2 separate regions of the Homo sapiens genome follow, and region 2 is linked to region 1. The links come from fine-mapping of genetic effects on gene expression. Tissue or cell type: testis. Region 1 holds a variant in brackets; the other region holds the start of a gene. All regions are shown on one strand. Distances are between the middles of the regions.

Region 1 (8,110 bases):
GCATCCATGCCCCTGCCAAGGACATGATCTCATTCTTTTTATGGCTGCGTTGTATTCCATGGTGTATATCTACCATATTTTCTTTATCCAGTCTATTATTGATGGGCATTTGGGTTGGTTCCATGTCTTTGCAATTGTGAATAGTGCTGCAATGAACATATGCATGCATGTATCTTTGTAGTAGAATGATTTATATTCCTTTGGGTACATACCCAATAATGGGATTGCTAGGTCAAATGGTATTTCTGGTTCTAGATCTTTGAGGAATCACCACACCATTTTCCACAATGGATGAACTAATTTACATTCCCACCAACAGTGTAAAAGTGTTCCTATTTTTCTGCAACCTTGCCAGCATCTGTTATTTCTTGACTTTTTAAGTAACTGCCATTCAGACTCCATCCATCTGACAAAGCTCTAACATCCAGAATCTACAAGGAACTTAAATTTACAAGAAAAAACAACCCCATCAAAAAAGTGGGCAAAGCACACGAACAGACACTTCTCAAAAGAAGATATTCATGTGGCCAACAAACATCTGGAAAAGAAAGCTCAATATCACTGATCATTAGAAAAATGCAAATTAACTGGAGATTTAACAATTCTTGTGGACAGGGACTGGCAATGTCAAAGACTTCCCAGGAGAGAACACACAGGTCCATGATTTTTGACCTCCAGACCACCATAATAAAACTAATATCACAATAAAGTGAGTCACAATTTTTTTTGGTTTTCTAGTGCATACAAAAGTTATGTTTACATTATCCTGTGGTTTAATAATTGTGCTATAGCACGATGTCTAAAAAACACTGTACCTACCTTAACTTAAAAATACTTTATTGCTAAAAAAAATGCTAATGATCATCTGAGCCTTCAGTGAGTCATAATCGTTTTAATGGCGGAGGGTCTTCCCTCCATGTGGATGGCTGCTGACTGATGAGGGTGGTAGTTGATGAAGATTGGGATGGCTGTGTCAATTTATTGAAAGAAGACAACAATAAGCTTACCACATCAATTAACTCTTTCATAAAAGATTTATCTGTAGCATCTGATGCTATTTGATAGCATGTTACTATCAATAGAACATCTTTCAAAATTGGAGTACATCCTCGCAAACCCTGTTACTGCTTTATTAACTAAGTTGATGTAATATTCAAAATCCTTTTTTTGTCATTTCAACAATGTTTACAGCATCTTCACTAGGAGTAGATTCCATCTCAAGAAACCACTTCCTTTGCTCATCCATAGGAAGCAACTTCTCAGCTGTTCAAGTTTTATGACAAGATTGCAACAATTCAGTCACATGTTCAGGCTCCACTTTTAGTTTTCTTGCTATTTCCACCACATCAACAGTTACTTACTCCACCGAAGTCTTGAACCCCTCCAAGTCATTCACACAGGTTGGAATTAACTTCTTTCAAATTCCAGTTAATGATATTTTTACCTCCTCCAATGACCCACGAATGTTCTTAATGGCATCTAGCATGGTGAATCCTTTCCAGAAGGTTTTGAATTTATTTTGCCCAGATCCATCAAAGGAATCGTTATCTACGGCATATAGCCTTATGAAATGTGTTTCTTAATAAGACTTGATTCAAAATGACTCCTTGATCCATGGGCTACAGAATGGATGTTGTGTAAGCAGGTATGAGAATAACATTCATCTCCTTGTACATCCTCATCAGATGCACGTCTCCATCAGTCTTGGGTGACCAGGTGCATTTTCAATTAGCAGTAATGTTGTGAAAGGAATATTTTTTTTTCCTGAACAGTAGGTTTCAATGATGGGCTTAAAATATTCAATAAACTATGATGTAAAAAGATGTGCTATCATCAAGGATTTGTGGTACAATTTATAGAGCACAGGCAAAGTAGATTTAGCATAATTCTTAACAACCCTAGGATTTTCAGAATGGTCAATGAGCATTGGTTTCAACTTAAAATCACCAGCTAACAAGGGAGTCAAAGCTTTGAAGCTTTGAAGCCAGGCATTGACTTCTCCTCTCTAGCTATCAAAGTCCTACATGGCATCTTCCAATAGAAGGCTGTTTCATCTACATTGAAAATCTGTTGCTCAGTGTAGCCATGTTAATCAGTTATCTTAGCTAGATCTTCTGGATAACTCGCTGCAGCTTCTTTCTTCTATCAGCACTTGTGCTTCACCTTGCACTTTTATGTTACAGAGATGGCTTCTTTCCTCAAATCTTATGAACCAACTTCCGCTGCAGTTCTCCAACTGTTTTCAGCAGCTTCCTCACTTCTCAGCATTCATAGCATTGAAGAGTTAGGGCCTCTGGATTAGGCTTTGGATTAAGGCATTATTGTAACTGGTTTGGTGTTCTATCCAGACCACAAAAACTTTCTCCATTCAGCAATAGAGCTGTTTTGCTTTATCATTTGTGTGTTCACTGGAGAAGCACCTTTAATTTCCTTCAAGAACTTTTCCTTTGCATTCACAACTTGAGTGAGAGGCATAGTTTTCAGCCTATCTTGGCTTTCTACATGCCTTTCTCAATAAGCTTAATCATTCCTAGCTTTTGATTGAGAGAGATGTGTGGTTCTTCCTTTCACTTGAACACTTAGAGGCCATTGTAGGGTTATTAATTGGCCTAATTTCAATATTGTTTTGTTTCAAGGAATGGGGAGGCCTGAAGAGAGGGAAGGAAATGGGGAAAGCTGGTCGATGGAGGAGTCAGAACACACACAACATTCATGGATTAAGTTCACTGTCCGATATGAGTGCAATTTGTGGCTACCTAAAACAGTTATAATAGTAAAATCAAAGAACACTAACCAACAAAACACATATAATAATAATGAAAAAGTTTTTAATATTGTGAAAATTACCAAAATGTGACATGAGCGAGACAGGAAACAGGCACATGATGTTGAAAAAATGGCACCAATAGACTTGCTGGTTACAGAGGTGCCACAAATCTTCAACTTGTAAAAAATTCAGTATTTGCAAAGCACAATAAATTGAAGCACAATAAAAGGAGGTATGCCAGTAGTTCTTGGCCAGGTGCTAGGCCAGGTCCTAAGACCTGTGGTAAGAAAAAGAGATTGTCCATGACATGCCCTCCTGGAAGAGATGAATATTAAAGGAATAATGAGGAATAAATACATAGTCATGTGCCACAGAATGGTGTTTCGGCCAACAATGAACCACATATACAAAGGTGGTCCCATAAAAATAAAATGAAGCTGAAAAATTTCTATTGATAGCAACATCCTAGCTGTTGTAACATCATAGTACAGTGCATTACCTTTTCTATGTTTGTTTAGATACACAATATACTTACCACTGTGTTATAGTTGCCTACAGTATTCAGTACAGTGACATGTCGTACAAGTTTGAAGCCTAAGAGCAATAGGCTGTATTGCTCATATAGCCTAGGTGTTTAGTAGGCTGTATCATTTAGGTTTGTGTAAGTAACACTCTGTGATGTTCACACAACAAAACCGCCTAATGATGCACCTTTCAGAACGTATCCCTGTCGTTAAGTGAGGCAGTAAGTGCACAGTATCTGTCTGTTGTAAATACGATGAAGGAAACAATACAGAGTGTCTAAGATGATGAGGCTTCTATAAAGACTTCTTTGAGGTGGTAACCTTTAGGGTTTGTCTGAAAGGTAAACAGGAGTTATTCAAGAATCAAGTGTTCCAGGTAGCAGGAACACTGCTCTATGGAATACAGCAAGGATATGAGAAATGTTTGGCACTTGTGGAAATACATGAAAGCCAGTGAAGTCTGATGTAAAACACTAGCACCAAGAGACCCATTTTGGATAAGATCATATATGTTAACCTCTTAGATATGCCTCTAACTATCTGGGAGAGTGTATACGCATAGTCCATAACCAGAAGGTCTTCCAGTTATCTGGTCATAGACACATATAGAGTTGTGAGAATGGTTTGAAATATTTTTGTACCTTTTCTGTCTAGTACTAATCCAGGGAGTCCACCTCCCACAGGCATTGGGGATTTCATTGTTATCTCTCTGACTCCCAATCTTGTTTGTTGGCCCCTCTACCTTCCCCACAGGGGTCCTGGCTTAAGTTTGTCAGACTTTTAAGGCTCAGGGTCCTTCAATTTCTTCCAAGTGAAACATCTACAACACAGACATTTCTCTTGCCAGTGCTGATGTCTCATGTGGCATAACTTCAACGTGTTACCACCATGTGACCAACTTTTCTTTATGGTATCTGCCTCAAATCCACCTCCCCTAAAGAGCTGGGAGGGTACACGAGAGAAGAGAATAAAGAGTTAAAAAGTTTTATGTTGCCACATATAAATATTTGCACTAATAACTAGGTAGAGGGCATGAGAGACAATATGGAATAAATCCCATTAGAATTAAGACAACTCTTAGTTATTTCTGCTAATGGAAAAGATAAACACGTTGGGGGAAATTTTTAAGTTTTTAATCACATAGTCA[A/T]TTTTTTTATAAGGTTCTCTCCTTGCCTTCTCACTGACTCAACTCTTTGCCCACAATCTTTCATTTTGTGTTTGCTCTTCAGTGAAGGGCACACCACACTGGCCAATGGAGAGTCCTAGAAGTTGTTTTTGACCTTCTTTCCCTCATCCTTCTCTTTTAAACAACCAGGTCTTACCAAGTATACTACATAAGTAGTGCTGTGATCTGTCCATGTTTTCCAATCCTAGGTGCCTCTGCCCTAGTTCAGGTCACCATTACTTCTCATCTGGATCAAATAGCCCTCCTAGGCTCCTGGCCTCCAGGCTTGCTTACCTCCAGAATGTTTTTCAAGTTGCAGATAGAGGGATTTTTCTAAAATGCAATGCTGATCAACTCACTCTCCTCTTTCAACCCTTCGATGGCTTCACATTTCTCTCAGGATGAAATAAAAACTCCTAAAAATGTCTTATAAAATCCTTAAAATCTGGCTGCTGTTAACTCTTTATTCTTATCTCTCATAACCTTCCTAGCCAAACTCTAAATTTCAACTCAACTAAATTTTCAGTTCCTTAAAAAATCCAGGCACTTGCTTTACTGTTTTCACATACTGTGCCAGCTCCCTGGAAGACTCTTCTTCCCACTACAGCCCACTCCACGCCATCACATCACTTCTCATTCCTCCCCTTTGTTCTAGCTGTATTTCCTCCAGGAAGCCATCCTTGAGTCCTTAGATTCTATTAGTTCCCCCAAGGTGTCTTCCTGTTGTACTTTGCTTTTTCCCCATAACATCTGTCATACTTCCTTCCCCCTCCTCTTGAACACCCAATACTCATTATGCCAATACAGAAATGAGTAACAAAGGAAGCAACACATCACCAATAATCCTGGTTTCATGACATTCTGATTATTTCTGTGCACATTATGGGTATTGTGTATTTAGCTTTACAACTTCAACTGAACAACTTATTCTAGACATCTTTATAGACAGTATTCTTTTAATGTACAATGAATTATTTAATCCTGTTATTATTGGGTATTTAGGTTGTTTCCATTTTCACATTTAAGACATTGTTGCAGTGAATATCCTTATCCATCCACCCTTTATAATTAACCAGTTATTTCTGAAGAATAAATTGACATCAAAAGTATAAGACTTGCATCAAATTGTATCTCCCTCCACACCATCTTGAAAATACCCACTTTATAAATCTTTTTTTCTTTTAACTTTCAACCTGATCAGCCAGATATATTTGTGGTGATTTCCCCCTAAATGACTAGGAAAGTTCAGCATCTTCATGTTACTGGACATTTAAAAAAATCAACTTTATTTGTCCAATTTTCTAAGTCAGGTCTCCTGGAAGCAGCATTTCAAATTAGGATTCTTGTGTAAGTGACTTACTGAGAGTCCTCTATAAGGGAATGAGAAAAAACAGAACAGGGCAGAAGAGGCAAATATGTGGTTTCAGGAGAAATCCACACACAGCGTAATCCCATGGGGTGCTCAGGAGCATAAATTGTACCACCGAGGCCAGTGGGCCAGGCTGTAATGTCCTGCATCAGTCACTGGCCATGGGCCAACCTCAGAGGAGACAAAACTTCCCAGGTATCTTCAGGTAAAGTGACTCTCATCAGCCCAGGACAATCCTCTGGAAAAGGGTGAAGATAAGTCATTAGTACCCAACATCTGAAGCACTGGCAATATAGGTACACCACCCTGGGAATGGGGATCTCTATGGATGCTAACAGCATGTCATGTTGGGTATTTAAAAAAAAAAAATTCTTAAAAGCTAAGCATATGAAACCTTCCTGGAATATGTATTGTAAATGTACTTTCCTACTTGTTGTTATGTAGAGACAAATCAATCAAACTTTGTTTTCTGGCTTTGATGACCATGCTCGGCAGGTCTATTGCAATCCAAGATTATTATTTTTTTAATTAACTTACATTTTCCTCTAGTATTTTACAAGTTTGTTAAAAAATTTAAATCTTTAATCTACCTGGATTTACTATGGGTGTGTATTGGGTGTGAGATAGAGATTTGACTTAGTTTTTTCCTAAATGATAGCTGACACTTCAATATTTAAATTAATATAATGAAGTAATAAATAATAAAATAGTTGGTACTTTCTTTTTTTTAGACAGAGTCTCATTCTGTCGCCCAGACTGGAATGCAGTGGTGCGATCTCAGCTCAGTGCAACCTCTACCTCCCGGGTTCAAGCAATTTTCCTGCCTCAGCCTCCCGAGTAGCAGGGATTACAGTCATGGGCCACCATGCCTGGCTGATTTTGTATTTTTAGTAGAGACGGGGTTTTGCCATGTTGGCCAGGCTGGTCTTGAACTCCTGACCTCAAGTTATCCGCCCTCCTTGGCCTCCTGAAGGGCTGGGATTACAAGTGTAAGCCATGGCACCCGGCTGTAGTTGGTACATTTTATATGACAGGCCCTGTTCAAAGTAAGCCTTCCACAAATACTAACCTACTTAATCCTTGCAATAATGTGACAGGTAGGGAGAACAGATGAAGCGAGGCACAGAGAGGTTACATAATTTGCCCAAGGTCATAGCTAATGAGTACTAGCAAGTAGGGCTTTAAATGCATTTAGTTTTTCTTTCCCCTATGCACTTAACTGGTATGCTGTACTGCCTCTCCCAAATAGATAACCAATTATTTCAGTATCACTTACTGAACAATCAATCCATCATTTCTTCTTATATCTAAAGTATGATCTTGGACTTCCTGCTCTTTTCACTGTTCTGAATTTCTGCACCAATTAGTTTTAATTACAGTACTAGAGTTTTGTTATACTCTGTAATATTCAGCATTGTAAGTCCCTCCCATTAGGTTTTTTCCTGAAATTTCCAATTCTCATATTTACTCTTTCAGAATACCAAGTCCAAAGACCAAATACATAAACAAGAAAACAAAAAATACTTATAAGCATTTTGATTTTAAATTTTGTTAAATGCGTAATTTGGGGGAGAATTTGATTTACAATTTGTCTTATTCAAGAAAACAGAATGTCTCTTTCCATGTATTCTAGTCTTTATTTTCCCTTTATTCTCTTATTACTTTCATTAAGTTTTCTTTATAGAGGCCCTACACATTTCTTGGTAATTTATGTCTTTGTGAATAGTGTCATCTTTTAAAATTATTTAACAGGTTATTAATCAAAATCTGGTTTTTGTGTATTTATACAATTGGCCACTCTGCCAAACTTCATCTTGGTTTGGCAGAGGTATTGGCATCTTGTAGCAATTAAATTAGTGGTTCATTCTAACGAAAGTAAATATTAGAAGGAAACTTGCCTCTGCTATTCACTGGTGATCAGCCATCATGCCCTACTATCATGAACAATGGCATAAACATGTATGAATAGAAAGCACGCACAACTGCAAACACATACTACACAAATGTGTAGTAAATGGACGTAAGCTGAAAGGTACCTGTATTTCTACTTTTTTCCCATTTATTTCACGAGTTTTCCAAGACAGTCGTATCTGCAAATAATTTTACCTCCTTTCTATAACATGAAAATCTTACTGTATCTGGTGCAACTGTAGCTGGTACATCACTAATTCATAAATTAAGGTGGGACGTCGCAAAAAATTGAACATACATCCTGTTAAGCATTTTAAGCTTAAAATAGATAAATGTATACTTGGGTACCAACCTTTTAAAGAAGGGTCAAAGCC
Region 2 (8,110 bases), 34 kb after region 1:
TCCTACACCCAATTAACCAATAAATCCCATCAATTCTCCCTCCTGGATGCCTCTTAAGTACCCTCCTTAACTCCCTCTAATCCATTCTCTGTAATTCAAACCTCATTTCACTCCCTTAGTTAAAACCTTCAAGGGCTTCCAACTGCTCTTGGAATCCTCACCCAAATTTATATCTTTAACCTTATGCCATGTAACCGGCTCACTAGGCTTAGCCCTATTGTTTTGTTTCACTTCCCAGAAAATACCACGTTTTCCTTAGCTTCAGGACCTATGCATAATCCATCCTATCTGGGAACATTAGCTCCCTGCTTGTCACCTATTTAACATTTACTGACTCTTCTGTCTCCCAGCTTGAATATCAACTTACTCAGGTTACATACTCCCAGAGCATCCTTTATTTACCACTTCCCTACCTTGGAACATTCCTTACATTTGTAATTATTATTTGTTCAGTGCTTGCCTTGCCAATTAAACTTTAAGCTTTATAAGTTCAAGGATTGTGCTATTATTCATGGCAATACCCCCCAGCACCCACCTTAAGTCTGGTGCACGTGAGTTCAATGAGTAACAGTTGCCAAGGGATTCTTTAATTGTGGTATCACTACACATGTGCCATGAGTAAGTGGAACAGACATATTACACTGTGTGAATTCTGAGGACAAGGAGAGCAAGCAGGTGTCATGGTTTGGCGGGGGCGAGGGAAAATGTAAAATGGGGAAGACAAAATGCAACATTGTTCAACATTAATCAATACAACTCACAAAGCCAAAAGGAGAGAAGAAAAATAATTAACTTACCAAAACATTGCAGTGAGATGGATCCGAGACAATAATTGTTAATCTAGTTAAAATTTTAATTGGTCTTGATTTTCCCTATTTAAAAAAGACATGATGTCAAAAAAGCACAAAAGACAATAATTGATTTTCCTTTTTACCAGTGGAAAGTATTCATTAAAAGGTACTGGCTATAAGGGATAGTGAAGATCAATAAAACCCAGTCCTTGTTCTCTAGGAATTTACAATACAGCCACAGAAAGAGATGTATATATCTTAAACTACATAACGAGATAATTTAAAAATTGTAGGACTTCAGGAAAGAAGATCATCAAAGCAATGCTGAATTGATAGTAAAAGAATGTTTCCTGAAGAGCTGAGCCTTGAGGAAAACGTTAAGACTGGTACTCAGAGTAAGGTGCAGCTCAAGCTAGAGAATAGCACAATAATTAGGTACCTTTTAACTGAATAAATAGATATTATGCTTCGTAAACAACAAAACACCTACCTGTACAATTGGCAAAGTTGTGAAGAGTTCAGAAACAGCTACTGGTTTTTCAATTTCCTACAACAAACGATAAATAGTTACTGCAGATTGTATCCATTAATAGCACAAGGCATAATGGAAAAATTACGAGGTGTTCTCAGAAAAAATATGCATTTTTTTTAAAAAGAAAGCAAGGTGATTTCTGGTATTCAAAAAAACTTTTAAAAATTATTTTTAAAAAGAAAGCTAAATAGAGAAGCAACTGTAAACATCAGTGAATAGGAAGAATGAAAACTAATTTTTAGACTGAAATAATCTACAGGATACAGTTGTTGGCCTAAAGAGAAATATACATACTTATTAGTAATGTTTAAGAGAGAAAGTAGTTAATAAGCCCATGACAATAGAATAAAAAGGACTAAATATTTTGATTACAGTCCAGCCAATAACAATGCACTTTTTGAACAGTGAAAAGTAACTTAATTTCAAATCACCTTTAAGAATCCTGAACACTATGTCATATTACCTCACAAAAATCATCATTGTATAAATATGCATCAGCTCGACTGTTTCTATATAAAATAGAAAAGTAGTAGTGCACAAAGGGGTGCATTTAAGAAATATTCTAATCTGTAGCTTCCAAATTACCAATACAAACAGAATTACAAATACTTATTTATGAACTTATTAACTTTAGAAATATTATTTTACCTGTTTCTTTTCCTTAAAGTCAACGATATGATTGATAGCAACAACTGAATAGCCAACTGAAAAAGAAAAATTGAACACTTTTGTTAAATATAACAACCTCTCCTTCCTGTAACACAGGTCCATCCTGAGTCTAGATGTCAAGAGTAGGAGGACATTTGAGGAGTGGTTATGAATGTGAACTCTAGTGTCAGTCTGCCTGATTTAAAGTCTATGCACTACCACTTACAAGTTACTTAACATGAAGTTTCAGGTTCCTCATCTGTCAAATGGTGAAAATAACAACACTTTCTTCATACACTGTCATGAAATTTAAATGAAATAATACACATGAGGTGTTTGAGAACAGTGCCTGGCACACAGGTCTTTGTTTAACCATTATGAATTATTATTAAAATGATACTAAAGACTCTTAACTTTGTGCTTCTCCTTTTCAAATGTCATTCTCTTTCATGACCCTATATTCATTTTTATCCCATCAAGTTCCTACTTTATCACTGTCACTTTTATTCCCGTTCATTTCTTTTGCTTTTTATCCTTCTACTTCCTTCAGAGACTCCTTTCCTAAGGAGAAATGGAGTGATAACTCCCTCACACCACTGCCCGCTTCCCATTTTAAGCTGCACACCATCGACAGACTGGGAGCTCCTTGAGGTCAAGGGCTTGCTTTATTATCCTCATCAGTTAGCACTGTTCTGGACATTTGGGCTACCAAAAAAAAATCTAAATCATGACTCCCATCTTTAATTTTTAAAAATACCAATGGGGATGAAAGGATATTAACATTAAAATACATATCAATGCCAAACTCTCAACAGTTTGTCCAACTTCCTTCTTCCCTTCCTCCCTCAAATATTTACTGAGCATCCATTACTTGACAAGCCCTAAACTGGTGTTGAGCATACAGGATAAATAATATAATCCTTCTCCACAAGAAATTTACAGCCTAGTCTGTTGGAGAACGAAGGCAAATAAGGCAATTAAGCAAGTCATTGTATATAAATACATGTTTTTTATAAGTAAGGATTCTATGGAAGTACATAGCACAGTGAAACCTGGTGTAGGGGTCACAAAAGGCTCCCTGAAGAAAGTTACCCTTAAAAACAAAAAAAAAATCACAAGTATGCCTGTACCTTGGGCTTCACCTTGCACCCAGTTAGTCAAATCAACCAGCCACACCTCCTCCCTATTCTTCTTTACCACACTCCCAAATCTGCTCTAAACTTCCTTGTTATACCCATTTAGGATATCCTTTTGGCTACTAAACAATGTCCCTACCGTTCTACAGAAATGTCAACTAGGATCTGTTTCTCCACAAAACTTTTTCCTAGACTACTCCTCATCTGGCAGCTTAGGAGTACTTACTTCCCCAATCAGGCTTTAGGGTATTTTAATTTACACAGTATATTTCTGAAGCTTATTATTGGTTTCTTGTATCACATCAGAAACTGAGAACCAGGGCTCTGTCTTTCCTATTCTTTGCAAATGTCCACTATTTAGTTCCAGACTCATCAAATAGCAGAGCAGTCCTTTGTCTTTGACTTGTAAGTTGAGGCAACTTTATATGCCATGAATTCCATTTAATTTACAAACAAATAACCACTAACAATGTACATATATTACCACACCTCTTCCAAGTGTATTTTAAACTGGGGGAAATTCTCTAAAGAAATCATTATTAACTTTTCTTTTTTGTATTAATTTTTTTAATGTGTTCAGTTTATTCCACAAGCATTAACTGAGTAACTGCCATGTACTGGTGCCTGCAGAGTGAACGTGTTAAGCACAGTAAATAAAAGGATAAGACATGGCAATTCTCTTAGGAAGCTCATGATTTATTCAAAAATGGGATGGCGTCAGGAAAAGCCTCATTGAGGAGGTAATAATTGCGACAAACTACACCTAGGAAAACTTATTTTACAGGATCAAAGAACATTAGCGCCAAATGGCCCAGATCATCATGTCTACTTTCGTCTTCGTGCTGATGAGCAAAGTACCACAGAGATAACGTTCATTTAGTGGCAGCAGTGGAAAGGGACAGTCATTTCGCCACGGATACTTCATAAAGAGAACAATAAAAAAGTGGTGTGATTCACTTTGCCAAGAAGTGGTTGTCATTTCTAGCACCACCTCTGAACAGTATCAGTAATCAGAACTCACAATGAGCTGAAAACTGTCTCTGAGGAGCAGATGTTACTACACGAACCTCTTGATTCTTTTTAATCTCTCTATTCCAACACTTTACAGTCTACGGAATACAGAACCCATGACTAACTCCAATAGTTAAAACAGGTTCTCGTCTCTCAAGGCTTTCGCTTCCCTTCGATTTGGGCCATGCTATCCTCCTCCTCCACCTCCACTCCGCTGTGTATGTCCTCTGCCCCCACCTACCCTCTCTCTGTCTAGATAGTATTGTTCCAACACTCCCACGTCCTCCTCCTTCTCCGAGCCTCCACGGCGCTTCCTGTCCGTGCCCCAAATTCCAGTATTTGTTTAGACACTGTCGTGAGAATCAGGAAGGGCTGATAGTAACTTAGAAGCTTAGAAGATTGTACCCTTGGAGTCCAGCTCCGGCTTCTGTCACCTATCAGCTGTAGGCCCCTATGCAAATCCCTCGCCCTCGTTAGGCCTCAGTTCCCTCATTGCAGGAAAGTAGCTGAACCAGATAACAACCCCCAGAACCTTCGAGTTTCCCGCGCTAGGAATCAGACCAACACCTCGGCGGGCATCAGCCTCCAGGGACATCCCAGAGACTCTGGGAGACCTGACCGAGACCCATCAGGAAATAGTTACTCCGGAGTGTGGCCCGATGGTCTGGGTGGCATGAGGTTGGCCAGGCGCGAAGCCGGGGCAACTCACGGTGAGCGGCTGTCTCCACAAGTCCGCGCAGAGCCTTCAGGTCAGAACCCGCTCGCAGGTCCAAATCTGCAAACACCGCCATGCTGAAGTCCCATGACCGTCCGCGCGCGCCAGTCTGCGCAGCCGCTGAGCCCGCCCCTCAGGCATGCTGGGAGCTGTAGTTAACCTGCGCAGTCCGTCTCTACCTCCAGTTGACTAGGGATTCGGAGAAACTTACTTGCTTTGCTTTCATCTACCACCAGAATTTGTGTGTTGAAATCAACAGCTTCATTTCAATCTCTCTTTGTCTTCTTCTGAACGACAATGTTTGGTTCCCCCTGGAGGGGTTCCAATTCCCAACTATTCAATACTCCTATAAAATAGTGTAGAAATGAATTCATTCAAAATGCACGCACACGGTATCTACTTAGTGCTGCTCATGAATCAGAGAATTCTGCTAATGGGTGAAAACGCTATTTAAAGAGTCTTAAAGAACACGTTTTCCTTTCCTTTCCCTAAAGTCCATTCCGTTGTTTACAATGGACTTACCGGGAAGAAGGCGTTTGTGTGTGACGGACTCTAGGACTTCAAAAGAGAACTACCCCAAGACGAGGGTCTTTTTACCCAATCAGAACTGTTGATGTCAAAGCCCGCTATTCTCTGTGGCAGTCAACATCTTCAACCACAAGATGGCGGGACTCGCTCTAGGACGAGCGGTTAGAGCCAACATTGATTTAGCCAAAGACATGTTTGAAAAGGGAGGTGCAAAATTGAGATGTTTTACACTTTTCCAGCTGAGAAATGTACAAGGTGACGCATATCCCACATATCTGATGTTTCCACTTTTTTCCGACTTAGTGTAAATGATCTATTGAGGATAATAATCAATTATACTACAAAAGTGTGACTATAGTTTACATCAGTGCTCTCAAACTACCTGTGATGAAGGATCAGTTTCTCCCTCCTTTTCCTCTACCCCCAAACTCTTCGCGAACCAGGATGTGGTCCTTTATGCATTACCAGTAAGCAGCCTGGCCTCATGGGAATCACAAATTTGACAACACTCGAACTGCCCTATACCTGGCTGAATAGAATCTGCTGATCAGGAGCTTGGATTATCAGGACAATGCCAAAGTACTGTAAACTTTCTAAACATCTTCACTTTTTGTTTGTTTGTTTGTTTTATTAACGTGCGCACAGCAACAACAATCACAGAATTAGAGGCTCGGTCATTTGACCTAGGGAGTATCCTAGTTGGTGGCCTGCTGAGTTTTCGTTTCGTTTTGTTTTGTTTTTAGAGAGAGTATCTCGTTATTGACCAGGATGGACTCTAACGCAAGCAATCCTCTCTCCTAGCTGTGATTACAGGAGCCCACCCACATGCTTCACCCATCAATTTCTCTTATTTACTGATCACAAACAGTTCACAGATAGTCTCTCGTCTATGGACCACACCTTAACTAGTACTCCTTTATGCGATTTTCTTGTCGGTCTCAGAAGGGAGGAAGGATCTGTTCCATGCAGTAGCATGCAATTCTCTTCTTGGTTAACTTTTGTAAAGAAGAGATATTTTGCCTTTTCCAGTACTTGATATTTCCTAAGTGGGAGTAGAAGAGAATATTACTTCTGCAAATAGAATAAGGTCATATGAAGCAAACGCTTTGTTTTTCATGAGAATATCTAGTGTTAATTTTGCAGGGTCACACAGGCATCATCACCTATGACCATAACAATCTAGATTGGTCAGAAATATGACCAATGTGTGGTGAAGGTGAATAAGGTGATAGTTCAATTATTTTTTCATTTTTAGTTGACACATTGTAATTATACATATTTATAGGGTACAATTTCATGTTCTGATACATGTATATGTTGTATAATGAACAAATCAAGGTAATTAGCATATTCATCACCTCATGCATTTTTGGTGATAACATTAAAAAAAACTCTTCTAGCTGTTTCGTGATATATAAACAATACCTTACTGTTAACCATAGTCACCTTGTGTGCAATACAACATCAGAACTTATTCCTCCTATCTAACTTTGTACCTGTTGACCAACCTCTCCCCATCCTCCTCCCTCAATCCCTCCCTCAATACCAATCAGTTGGCTATAGGTGCATGCATTTATTTTTGGTCTCTCTATTCTGTTACATTATTGGTCTATGTGTCTGTTTTTCTGCCAGTACCATGCTGTTTTGGGTACTATAGCTTTGTAGCATATTTTTAAGTCAGGCTTTGTGATATCTCCAGCTTTGCTCTTTTTGCTCAGGACTGCTCTTGCTGTTTGAGGACTTTCGTGGTTCCACACAAACTTCAGGATTTTAAAAAATATTTCTGTGAGGAATGTCATTGGTATTTTCATAGGGATTGCATGGAATCTGTAGATCGTTCTGGATAGTATGTCTACTTCAACAATATTATTTCAGTTCATGAACATGGGATATCTTTTCACTTATTTGTGTCATCTTTATTTCCTTAATTTTTTTTATTGTACAGATCTTTCACCTTCTTGGTTAAGTTTATTCCTAGGTATCTTTTTTTGTAGCTATTGTAAATGGAATTGTTTTCTTGATCTTTTTAGATAGTTCCCTATTAGCATACAGAATGCTACTGTTTTTTTGTATGTCAATTTTGTATCCTGCAACTTCACTGAATTTACTTGCTAGTTTTAAATGGTGGAGTTTTTTTGGGGGAGCCTTTAGGGTTTTCCATGTATAAGATCATGTTGTCTGCAAACAGTAATGATTTGAGTTCCTCCTTTCCAATTTGGATGTCTTTTATTTCTTTTTCTTGCCTAATTGCTGTGGCTAGGAGACTGTTTAATTATCTGATGCTAGTATGAGACTAAAGTGGGCTTCTTTGAAAGTCACAGAACTTTTGCTGTGGACTGTACCATATAAACTTCTTTTCTTCTCTGCACCCTAAGCCTGGGTGAAGAGGAAGAGAAGAGGTAAGAAAGAATAGGAATAGATAACAATCAGTATTTAGCACTATACTGAGGGCCAGCGAATTTGCTAAGTACTTATGTATGTATCTTATTTTCAAAGCAGCTGTGTGTTAAATGCTGTTTTTTATTTTTGTTTTATTACTGTTTTCAGATCTAGACTTGCAGAAGTACTGTTTTTTACTTTTTGTTATTTTGTTTTTAAAATCAATATCCATTTTTTATATCTGAGAAAACTAAGGCATTATTAGTGGTAGAACTACATGTGGATGGAGGCAATTTGTTTCAGTTCTTGCCTAGTGTACTGCTTCCTGAGCAAAGCAAGCAGAGACTAGAGTTGTTTGGGAGGGAGGAGG

Direction of the effects. Positions count from the first base shown, and alleles are read on the strand shown. Sizes are in standard deviations (SD) of each study's normalised expression.
With allele T in place of A in region 1, the expression in testis of the gene that starts at base 4,922 in region 2 is lower (small effect, 0.36 SD a copy in GTEx).

What was found. PIP is the estimated chance that this variant, and not a neighbour inherited with it, causes the effect.
Region 2: it holds the start of RPP30, and the variant in region 1 is fine-mapped to the expression of RPP30 in testis (GTEx, PIP above 0.99).

The regions. Positions count from the first base shown.
Region 1 is chr10:90,903,255-90,911,364 of GRCh38, reverse strand. It overlaps a transcript of RPP30 not described here. Among named protein-coding and RNA genes, the nearest start is that of ANKRD1, 14 kb to the left of the region's middle. The variant A/T (reference allele first, on the strand shown) is at 4,439.
Region 2 is chr10:90,868,786-90,876,895 of GRCh38, reverse strand. RPP30 (ribonuclease P/MRP subunit p30) reads right to left here and starts at 4,922. Exons shown (of 11, transcript NM_006413.5): 1 at 4,828-4,922; 2 at 1,972-2,027; 3 at 1,282-1,338; 4 at 798-872. The coding sequence starts at 4,909. RefSeq lists enhancers at 4,612-4,671, 4,802-5,071, 4,790-5,084.